Regions from separate parts of the Homo sapiens genome. Here region 1 is linked to region 2. The links come from fine-mapping of genetic effects on gene expression. A gene starts in region 2. The other region holds a variant in brackets. All regions are shown on one strand. Distances are from middle to middle. Region 1 overlaps PPP6R2 (protein phosphatase 6 regulatory subunit 2). Region 2 holds the start of DENND6B (DENN domain containing 6B).

Evidence for each region. PIP is the estimated chance that this variant, and not a neighbour inherited with it, causes the effect.
Region 1: its variant is the best candidate, but not a certain one, in a credible set for the expression of DENND6B in whole blood (TOPMed, PIP 0.80).

What each region holds. Positions count from the first base shown.
Region 1 is chr22:50,359,553-50,364,918 of GRCh38, reverse strand. All of the region lies in intron 1 of PPP6R2 (protein phosphatase 6 regulatory subunit 2), which reads right to left. Among named protein-coding and RNA genes, the nearest start is that of PPP6R2, 19 kb to the right of the region's middle. RefSeq lists an enhancer at 3,416-3,465. The variant T/C (reference allele first, on the strand shown) is at 2,014.
Region 2 is chr22:50,323,841-50,329,206 of GRCh38, reverse strand. It overlaps DENND6B (DENN domain containing 6B), which reads left to right and starts at 2,195. Exons shown (of 20, transcript NM_001001794.4): 1 at 2,195-2,395. The coding sequence starts at 2,219. RefSeq lists a silencer at 1,807-2,446.

The DNA of each region.
Region 1 (5,366 bases), 36 kb before region 2:
GTAGAAAAAGACAAACAGGGAATAAAGAATACACCGTACTTCTGCTGTAAGCCTCTACACGATGACACATTAAGTGGGACCCGCACACAATACAACTTTGGCACTCTTTCCTCATCCCCACCTGATTCCATAACCGTACCAAAACTATCTAAATATGCTGAGTGTCTCCCCCAGCTAACACCTTTGCACACACAGACCCTCTGACTGGAATGCCTTCTTCCCACTTTCTCTATTTGACAAACTCTTGCCTGATCTTCCTATCTGAAGACCATCTATAGCTACCTTTGTCAACTTTCTGAGTCCCTCCTCAGTGCTCTCACAAGACTGTTTATATCTTTCAGAGAATTATAACTCAGTTTTAAATATTTTTATTTTTAATTATGAAATTTTTTAAATATATTGAAGTCTAGAGAAGGACATAATATCCATGTGATGAGACTTAACAAACACTAACATTTGTTTGTATGTGCCTCCTTCTTAAACAAATGTTTCTACGACACTGAGGAACCCAGGAACTCAAGCAATCCCCTTCTTGAGAGACAATCACTAACTTGCAGTATCCGTAATTTCATTATTTTATGACTTATATACCTAAAAATGGTACATTGCTTTAAATACATATTTCAAGTATGACACTTCTCTCATATACCAAGTTCCCATTTATACAGGGTCCTTTTCCAGGCTATCCATTCCACTGGCCTCACAATAAGTCTGAAAACCTGGGCCAGGCACGGTGACTCAAGCCTGTAATCCCAGCACTTTGGGAGGCCGAGGTGGGCAGATCACCTGAGGTCAGGAGTTTGAGACCAGCCTGGTTAACATGGTGCAACCCCGTCTCTACTAAAAATACAAAAAAACTAGCCAGACGTGGTGGTGCATGCCTGTAATCCCAGCTACTCGGGAGGCTTAGGCAGGAGAATCGCCTGAACCCGGGAGGCAAAGGTTGCAGTGGGCCGAGATTGCGCCACTGTACTCCAGCCTGGGCGACAAGAGCAAAAACTCCGTCTCAAAAAAAAAAAAAAAAAGTTTGAAAATCTGTTACAGCAACTCCCTTCTTATTCTTTTTCACACTTGTCTTGGTTATTCTTCACCCTTTACTTTAAAATTTTCTAGTAAAATAAGTAAATGGAACCAAATTGATGAGGAAACAGCAGAGACTGGATCCTGAAACAAGTCCCCCTGGAGCACGCTGAATGGTCAGATGAGCCCAGCTCTAGTAGGACTCCAGGTCCGTCCGTAAGAGCAGAAGCAGGAGAGAGATTGAAAGGCTCATGAGCAGCAGCTGCGGACAGCGGAGCTGGCTTCTCCATTCTGCAGGTTGCCAGCTCCTGACTCTACCATATGCCCTCAAGAAGAAGAGCCAAGAAACACAGTGAAAAGGTGGAGAATCTTCCTCCGGAAAAAGCTTTGCATGAGCATTGGAAGCACTCAGGCCTAGGCTAACTCCAGACACCAGGAATATGAAAGGGAAAAAAAGGAAGCTTGCTCTACTCAGAGATGAACATACTAGAGCACTATAATTCTGAAGTAAAAGCCTTTCTTAACTGTGGCAATGGAGAAGTGCCCAGTCACCCGACTGCTGATTCTCCTGCCACATCCTAAAGCACAGATTGCAACTTAAAGGCCTGCAGAACAAGGCAAGATGCTAAGTGTAAGGAAGGAAGCTGGCGGAAAAGACAGCAGCAGAGTGAAGGCTGCAGCACAAGAGGGCATGGAAGGGAGCAGAGACAGGCCCACCCCAGCAATCACAGCCGTGCAAGGACACAGGGCACCAGCACATGTCTGCTTCTACAAGAAGTGACAAAAATCCACATTTTTTTTAAATCCCCACATCTTCATGTTTATAATTAACTTTTGAACACTATGTGGGCCAATAAAATGCAGGACAAGCTAAATACATCCTCAGGCCACCAGTGGCTAAGGAGCCAGTCTTCAATGACTGCTCTGCCAGAGAGCCAGCCACCTTCTTGCCCTCCACTGACCCGGTGTCTTCGTATGCTTAGGCGGCCAGAA[T/C]ACAACACCTTCAACAGCAGACAATTATTCCTCACAGTTCTGGGGCCTAGAAGTCCAAGGTCAAGGTGCTGGCCAATTAGGTTGCTGAGAAAGCCTGTCTTCCCTGCCCTTAGACCATTGCCTTCTCACTGTGTCCTCACAGCAGGGAGGGTGAGAGCAAGCTCTCTGGTGTATCTTTGTATGAGGGTGTCAGTCCCATCTTGAGAGCCCCACCTGGTGACCTCACGGAACCTAATTATCTCCTAAAGGCCTCCCTCCAAATACCACTAAATGGAACTTAGGATTTCAACATAGGAATCTGGGGTGGACACGACACAATTCAGTCCCTAGCACCCTGCCTGTCTTTGAGCCCTTCCACCAACTAAGGATGGCATGAGGCCTCCATGCAGAGCACGTGCTCTGCAACGGGAACACAGTAAGGACTCAGCGACGGGCTGAGAAGAGCTGACGTCGCTGCACATTCCAAGGTCTTCAAGCTCCCAAGGTAGCAATTCTCCTCCCAGCAGCGGAGGCCCAGCTGGTCTCCCACCAAAGTCTCAGAAAGGTGACTTTAACACACAGCCCCGAGAGATGGCTGTCAGGCCCACGCCAGGCTCAGAAGAGTATCCTCCTGGCTGTTACATAGGATGAAGGCTCAAGTGAAAACTGAAAACCTCCATCTGCTCAACACTAGCAACCATGGCAGCTCTCCCAGTTAAGGACAGAGATGGCCAGCATTATGAGGATGCACCTTCCTCATCACCAGTGCTAAGGGCCCTAGCCCCGACTCCTCCCCTTCCTGGAGCCCAATGCAGACCCTCCAGGCAGCCAGAGAACCTCTTGAGCCAGGGAGGCCTGGCCACATCAGGGCAGTCCCTGACCACAAAGGTCCAGGCATAAAGTCCAGTTTCCATCACTGAGCAGCTCTGGAACCTTGGGCAAGTGCCTGCTGCATGTGCACTGCAGGTAAAAGTGTTGACTCCAAGACAGAGAACAGTCATGACTGCCACCACTGCCCTAGGACAGTGACTAATACCAGATGCCTCCAAGGGGCCTAGAGAGAAAAACAATCAACTGCAGGAAACCAAAGGCCCACCACAGCAAGGCCCTAGTCCGCACCTACGCGCACCACAAGACAGACAGCGCACCTATGCTATATTTGTTGTCAATAATATAATCCTGGGAAAACAAGTACCAGAACAAAGAGTCAAAGGCAGACGAGCAGGGCATACTCTGGGTCCTGGGTCAAAGGAAGACAAGCAGGGCATACTCTGGGCTGAGACTGTTGAAGGAAAAATAGCTGAAGGCAAGCTAGATAAAAAGCATTGTCAAACAAGCAGAAAACAGCACCAAAAAGCAGCAGGGAGGAAACTGGGGCAGTGAACAAAGCTCAAGTCCAAACAAGACGCACAGAAGAAGTAAGAGCCAACAAACTGCCTTTAGGGTTCCAGCAGCCACAGGAGAGTGGCAGTAGCTGGCTTCATCCGTACACTCAAAGCTCAAAGCCTAATGCAGCAGGTAGTTTCCTACCAACCCCCAGTTCACAAGTAAAAAGCAGAGGTCTCAGTAATTACATGACTAGCGCAACGTCATGGGCTAGTAAGTATCCGTTCTAGAACTTGAACCCAGGTTTGGCTGAGAGCAAAGCCCATGTTCTCAGTCTCCATATGATAACCAGATTCTGACTGAGTCAATGAAGAAAAAAAGGAGTTATCAAAGGAAATCCAAAAGGAATGACCAAGATTGAGGGTGATGACAGGAAGGCACTACCCAGGACCGAACTAGTCCAGGAAGGGCATCACAGCAAAGAGCTGAGAAAGGGTCAGAGCAGAGTTCCACAGGCTTAGAGATGGTGGGATCATGAGGAGAGAGAAGTCAAGTCTTCAAAGTGGAGCAGTCAACAGGATGATGAGTGACAGTCAAATTCTTGAAGAGCTCCTAAAGGTCTGACTGTCCACAGTAGCCCAGAGAGAGGACACTGGGCATCAGTCAGTTCATTCAGCAACAAATGTAGCTAATAATGGGACAAACCTAGTCATGCCCCAAGGAACCTGACGTCTAGCAGAGAAAACAGATACTGACAGACTCTACACAGTGCCAAACCTGAGAGAGACTGGTGTGAGCAGCAACAGTGGGCAGAAGCACAGGTCAGCTCCCTGGCTCACACCCAATAGGTGTCCTATCTGTGAGCTCTGACAGTGTAGCTAACTGCCAGCTTCTCTGTGGCTCCTCGGTAAACAGGGATAAAAATACAGATCTCCTGGGCCAGGAATGGTGCCTCACACCTATAATCCCCATGCTTTGGGAGGTCCAGGCAGGAGGATTGCTTGAAGCCAGGAGTTCAAGACCAGCCTGAGCAACACAGAGAGACCCCATCTCTAAAAACCTTTTTTTAAATTAGCCAGGTGTGGTGGCATGTACTTGCAGTCCTAGCAACTCAGGAAACTGAGGCAGGAGGGTCTCTTATGCCTGAGAGTTCAAGACTGCAGTGAGTCATGATCATGTGTTCATACCACTTGCACTTCCAAGTGGGCAGCAGAGGAGACCCTGTCTCTCTTAAAAAAAAAAAAAAAAAAGGCTGAGCATGGTGGCTCACGCCTATAATCCCAGCACTTTGGGAGGCCAAGGCAGGCAGATCATGAGGTCAAGAGATCAAGACCATCCTGGCCAACACGGTGAAGCCCCATCTCTACTAAAAATACAAAAATCAGCCAGGCGTGGTGGCACGCACCTGTAGTCCCAGCTACTTGGGAGGCTGAGGCAGGAGAATCGCTTGAACCCAGGAGATGGAGGTTGCAGTGAGCCGACATTGTGCCATTGCATTCCAGCCTCCATGACAGAGCAAGAGTCCATCTCAAAAAAAAAAAAAAGTGCTGAAAGGGAAAAAAAAAGCTGTTAACCTAGAATTCTGTATCAAGCAAAAATATCCTTTGAAAACAAAAATATAAATAAAGACATTTTAAGACAAACAAAAGCTGAGGGAATTTGTCCTTATCATACCCACATTACAAGAAATCCTGAAGGAAAATAATCCCGGATAGAAATCTGATCTGTAAAAGAAATGAAGAATTTCCCAACTCATTCTATGGGTCCCAGTATTACCTTGATACCAAAACCAAAGACATCAAAAGAAAAGAAAGTCACACACAAATATTTCTTAAGAAGGTAGATGTAAAAAGCCTCAACAAAACACTACCAAACCAAATCCAACCACATATAAAAAGGATTCTACACCATACCACAGGGGATTTAATCCCAAGAATGCAAGCTTGCTTTAACACCCGAAAATCAATTAATTTAACATATCACATGTGGATAAAGGACAAAACACAAGTGATCATCTCAACATACACAGAAAAAGCATCTGACAAAAT
Region 2 (5,366 bases):
AAAGGAAACATAAACTGTTGGTAGGAATGTTTCCATTTTCTTTTTTTATCTTTTTTTGAGACAAAGTCTCGCTCTGTCACACAGGCTGGAGTGCAGTGGCTTGATCTCGGCTCACTGCAACCTCCACCTCCCAGGTTCAAGCGATCTCATGCCTTAGCCTCCTGAGTAGCTAGGATCACAGGTGACCGCCACCATGCCTGGCTAATTTTTGTATTTTTTAGTAGAGACAGGTTTTCACCATGTCGGCCAGGTTGGTCTCAAACTCCTGACCTCAGGTGATCCACTAGCCTCAGCCTCCCAAAGTGCTGGGATTACAGGCATGAGCCACCTCGCCTGGCCTGGTAGGAATGTTTTTAAATGTATGGCTGCTTTGGGGAAAGCTAAACATATACCCAGGTTATGCCTCAGCAATTTGGTTTCTATGCACGCCCAAGAGAAATGAAAATGAGCCCAGGCAGCACGAGACCCCATCTCCACAAAAACGAACAAAAAATAAAAATAAAAAAATAATGGGGTATGGCGGCGTGTGCCTGTAGCCTCAGCTACCTAGGAGACTGAGTGGCAGGATAGCTTGAGCCAGGAGATCGAGGCTGCAGTGAGCTGCAATGGGCCACTGCACTCCATCCTGGGAGAGAGTGAGACCTTTCCTCTAAAAATAAAAATAAAAGCTATACAGTCGGGCCTGGCATAGTGGCTCACGCCTGTAATCTCAACACTTTGGGAGGCCGAGGCGGGCAGATCACCTGAGCTCAGGAGTTCGAGACCAGCCTGGCCAAAATGGTGAAACCGTTTCTACCAAAAATACAGAAATTAGCCTGGCGTGGTGGTGCACGCCTGTAATTCCAGCTACTCGGGAGGCTGAGGCAGGAGAATCGCTCGAACCCAGTAGGCAGAGGTTGCAGTGAGCCAAGACCATGCCATTGCACTCCTGCCTGGGCAACAAGAGCAACATTCTGTCTCAAAAAAAACAACAGAAACAAACAAACAAAAAACAATACGGCCATGTGCTACTCAACGGTGAAGCTATGTCCTGAGAAATGTGTCATTAGGCGATTTTGTTATGTGACAAACCTAGATGGGACAGCCTACCCCACACCTAGGCCAGATGATCCGAACAACACGTGGTAATCTTTTATTTTTTTATTTTTGAGATGGAGTCTCACTCTGTCGCCCAGGCTGGAGTGCAATGGCGACATCTCAGCTCACTGCAAGCTTCGCCTCCGGGGTTCAAACGATTCTCCTGCCTCAGCCTCCCCAATAGCTGGGGTTACGGCGCTCGCCAGCCACCACGCCCGGCTAATTTTTGTATTTTCAGTAGAGACAGGGTTTCACCAGGTTGGTCTCGATTTCCTGGATTCGTGATCCGCCACCCCACCTCGGCCTCCCAAAGCGGTGAGATTACAGGCGTGAGCCACCGCGTCTGGCCAACACGTGGTAATCTGAAGGGACCACCACAGTATATGCGGCCCGCCTTCCACGGAAACGTCATGAGGCCCACGACTCAAAGGCGTGCCTCATTAAGTTACCGACAGCCCCAAACTCGCCCTTCCACGCCGGGCCTCAAGGTGCTCTGTGGACCACAGCGGGGCCCGGGGCCCTCGCGAGGGAGGGAAGAGTTCGCTCCAGGTCCCCGCGATTCCCCCGGAAAGTGAAACTGCAGAGGTGTTGCGTGGACACCCGCGGTCAGACACGACCCCAGGCCGCGCGGGCCCCAGAGGAAGCGAGCGCGAGTCCGCGGTGGTGGCTGGGCGCTCAGTGAGGACGCCATTCCGCCACGAAAACGCCCGCGACGCCGCTGGCCCCTGCGCGGTGGGGCGAGGTAGGCTGGCCGGACCTGCGAAGCCCGACGAGCCCGGCGCCGGCTGGCTGCAGCTTGCTCTGCCTCCCTGGCCTGGCCCCGAGGCTCCCGCGAGCCGGGATCCGCGAACACCGGGGCCGAACCGACTCTCTCGGGCCTCAGACGGCGTGGACCCTGGAAGGCCCCAGTTCGGCCGCTTCCCCGGAAGTCCCCCAGTGGGCTCCGGCCGCTCTGGCCCGCGCGCGTCCGGCTCGCTGGTGCCCTGGGCGGCGCCCGGCCGCTGGCGCTTCTCGGGCGCTAGGGGGCGCGCGGCCGCGCGGGAGCCGCACTGGGCCGCGGCGGCCGCTCGACTGTTCTGAGGAGCGGCCCGGACGCGCGCCGCCCCCGCCCGCGTTTCCCCGGCAACCCGCGGCCGCCGCCATGGACGCGCTGTTGGGCACAGGGCCTCGCCGGGCTCGCGGCTGCCTGGGCGCGGCTGGACCCACGTCTTCAGGTCGCGCGGCGCGGACCCCGGCGGCGCCCTGGGCGCGCTTCTCCGCCTGGCTGGAGTGTGTGTGCGTGGTCACCTTCGACCTGGAGCTGGGCCAGGCGCTGGAGGTGAGCGGGCGCGAGCGCGGGCGCGGGCGGGTGGGCAGGGCTGCGCCTCTCGGGGCCAGTCCCGCCTCGCTTGGGGCCCTCGGCCGCCCCGCACTCTCCCTGGCCTTCGGCCGCCGCCTCCTGGAGGGGCCTCTTCTCCGGGCTCCAGAAGCGCTCCCCAGGCCGAGGAGGGAAGGCGAGCTGCTCGGAGTCGGATCTTGTCTTCACATTGGGATGGAGCATTTTGCATAACCTAAGTGGTACTCTTTCGATTTTTCCCAGTAAATGTCTCACATCTCCCCCCTCCATTCCCCACCGGAGCAGTGACACCTTCATCCCCTCAGTGGCTCCCGCCAGAGTCCCGGGCTTACCCTCCGCTCCGCATCCCATCTCTGGGCATAGGCGAGGCTGACGGCTCCTTCTGCAACAAAGGTCTCGGATCCGTTCCTTTGCTGCCATCACTGATGTCATCCCCACCCCAGCTGCACCCCAGAGTTCAACCTTTGTGGCTCTCCTGCTTAAAACCCTGCAGCGCCTCCTTGTTCACCTAGCATCAGATCCAGACCCCATGGGCCCCGTCCCTCCACCTGCGTCTTGTGGTGTTCTTGCTCGTGGGGGTCTGTTCATCGGCTGTGCCCATGGGCTTTCGATGTGGTCTTTCTGCTGCCTGCAGGCCTCCACTCACCTACCCACACAGGCAGCCTCCTTTCCTCCAGGGAGGCCCCGCAGGATGATCTTCTCTGTGTCCTGTGTAACACACACCAGGGAGCTGACCAGCACAGGGGAGGCCCACCTGCAGATGGAGGGAGGCTTCCCCGCGCTGGCGCAAGGAACCTCGTGAGGGGTAGTGAGCTCTCTATTACCGCAGGTGTCCAAGATCAGGCCAAATCATCATCATCAGGAAAGCCAGGCAGCGCGTCTCTGTGGTTGGGAGATGCTTTCTAAGGCCCTGCTGAACTCCAAGAGGCCATGAGAAGCATATAGTCTTCTAAACAGAAAAGCATTAACTCTAGCACTCTCTGGAGCCCCTCCCACCACACACGGTCCCCAGCAGGTGCACAGCCTCAAACAGCATCACTGGGTGGGGGCTGAGTACCAAGAAGTGTGGTGACCTGCCCAGGGTTGAAAACCTTTCTTAGTTCAATACTGTTGCCCAGATTGTTCCCCACAAAATCACAAAAGAAGTTAAGAGGTTCCTGGCCGGACGCGGTGACTCATGCCTGTAATCCCAGCACTTTGAGAGGCCGAGGCAGGCAGATCACAAGGTCAGCAGTTTGAGACCATCCTGGCCAACATGGTGAAACCACATCTCCACTAAAAATACAGAAATTAGCCGGGCGAGGTGGCACACTCCTGTAGTCCTAGCTACTCGGGAGACTGAGGAGGAGAATGGCTTGAACCCGGGAGGGGGAGGTTGCAGTGAGCAGAGATTGCACCATTGCGCTCCAGCTTGGGCGACAAAGTGAGACTCCATCTCAAAAAAAAAAAAAAAAAAAAAGGAGGTTCCTCTGTTCCTTAAGACATTCTCGTGTTATTTTCTAAAACCCATTCGGAAAGTTATTTCTGAGCTGTTGAAGGCTGTGTGTGCTTGGACTCCTGAGCTTTTGCTGGGGATGCTCAGCTCGGACTAGGGGCATGGTCAGCTGGCAGAGTGTTGGGGACCCAGGTCCATGAGCGAAACCCTCCATAGCAATGATCTGGGCACCTGCAGATCACTGAGTCTGTGCAGAAACCTGGCAGTGGATCCACCGGGGCCTGAGCACATGACTCTTGCCTTTCCTCCCTCACCTGGAAGTCACAGGGAAGATCGAGGTCGTTTTAGTCACTTACAGACTTAGGGAGCACCCACTGTGCAACTCAGTCACAGCTCAGCCCAGCTAAGCACTGCAAAGCCCCAGGACTGTGCTTGGTTCTGCGATATGGAAGGAAGACTCTAGTTGGGATGCATGCAGCTCAGAGGAAGGAATGGGCTTAGGTAAATAAGTCTTGGATGCTGAGAAGAGACAGGGGAGGGGGTCCTGTTTCAGGTAACCCCTCTCCCAAAATGCCAACATAAGCAAAAGGCAAGGAGCTGGTGATTCAGTTACTCATTCAGTAAATCACTTTGAAGGCTGGGCATGGTGGCTCACGCCTGTAATCCTAGCACTTTGGGAGGCCGAGGCGGACAGATCACCTGAGTTCAGGAGTTTGAGACCAGCCTGACCAACACAGAGAAACCCTGTCTCTACTAAAAATACAAAATTAGCCGGGCGTGGTGGCGCACGCCTGTAATCCCAGCTACTCAGGAAGCTGAGGCAGGCAAATCGCTTGAACCCAGGAGGCGGAGGTTGTGGTGAGCCGAGATCGCGCCATGGCACTCCAGCCTGGGCAACAAGAGTGAAACTCTGTCTCAAAAAACAAAACCGTAGATCACATTGAGCAGCTATCACCAGCCCAGCCCCACAATACTGGTGCCCAGCATGTAAGTGAGTAGACAAGGCTCTTGCCCTTTAGGAGTTCACACTATGTGCCAGTGATATGGAGAGTAAGTGGTTCAGAGTCCATAGTGCTCACAGGACTCCCCCTTAGCCCTCACAGGATACCCCCGCAACTGTACGCATGGGAGCATCATGGAAATGAGTGCAGTGCAGCCTGCTTGAGAGATGAGGGGTCCAGCTTGAGAGGGGCCAGCAGGGCTGTGGGGTGACAAGGGATCTGGCTTGTGAGGGGCTGGGCAGGACTGTGGGGTGACTGGAGTGTACAGGTCAGCTTAGGAAAGGGCCTGGCTCCGCCTTCTCAGCTCTTGAAAACTCACCTCTTGGGCTGGGCGCAGTGGTCCTGCCTATAATCCAGCCCTTTAGGAGGCCGAGGCAGGAGGATCACTTGAGGCCAGGTGTTCCAGACTAGCCTAGGAAACATAGTGAGACCCTGTCTCTACCAAAATTAAAAATAAATTAGCCAGGTGTGGTGGCATGCACCTGTAGTTATAGCTACTCAGGAGGCTGAGGCTGGA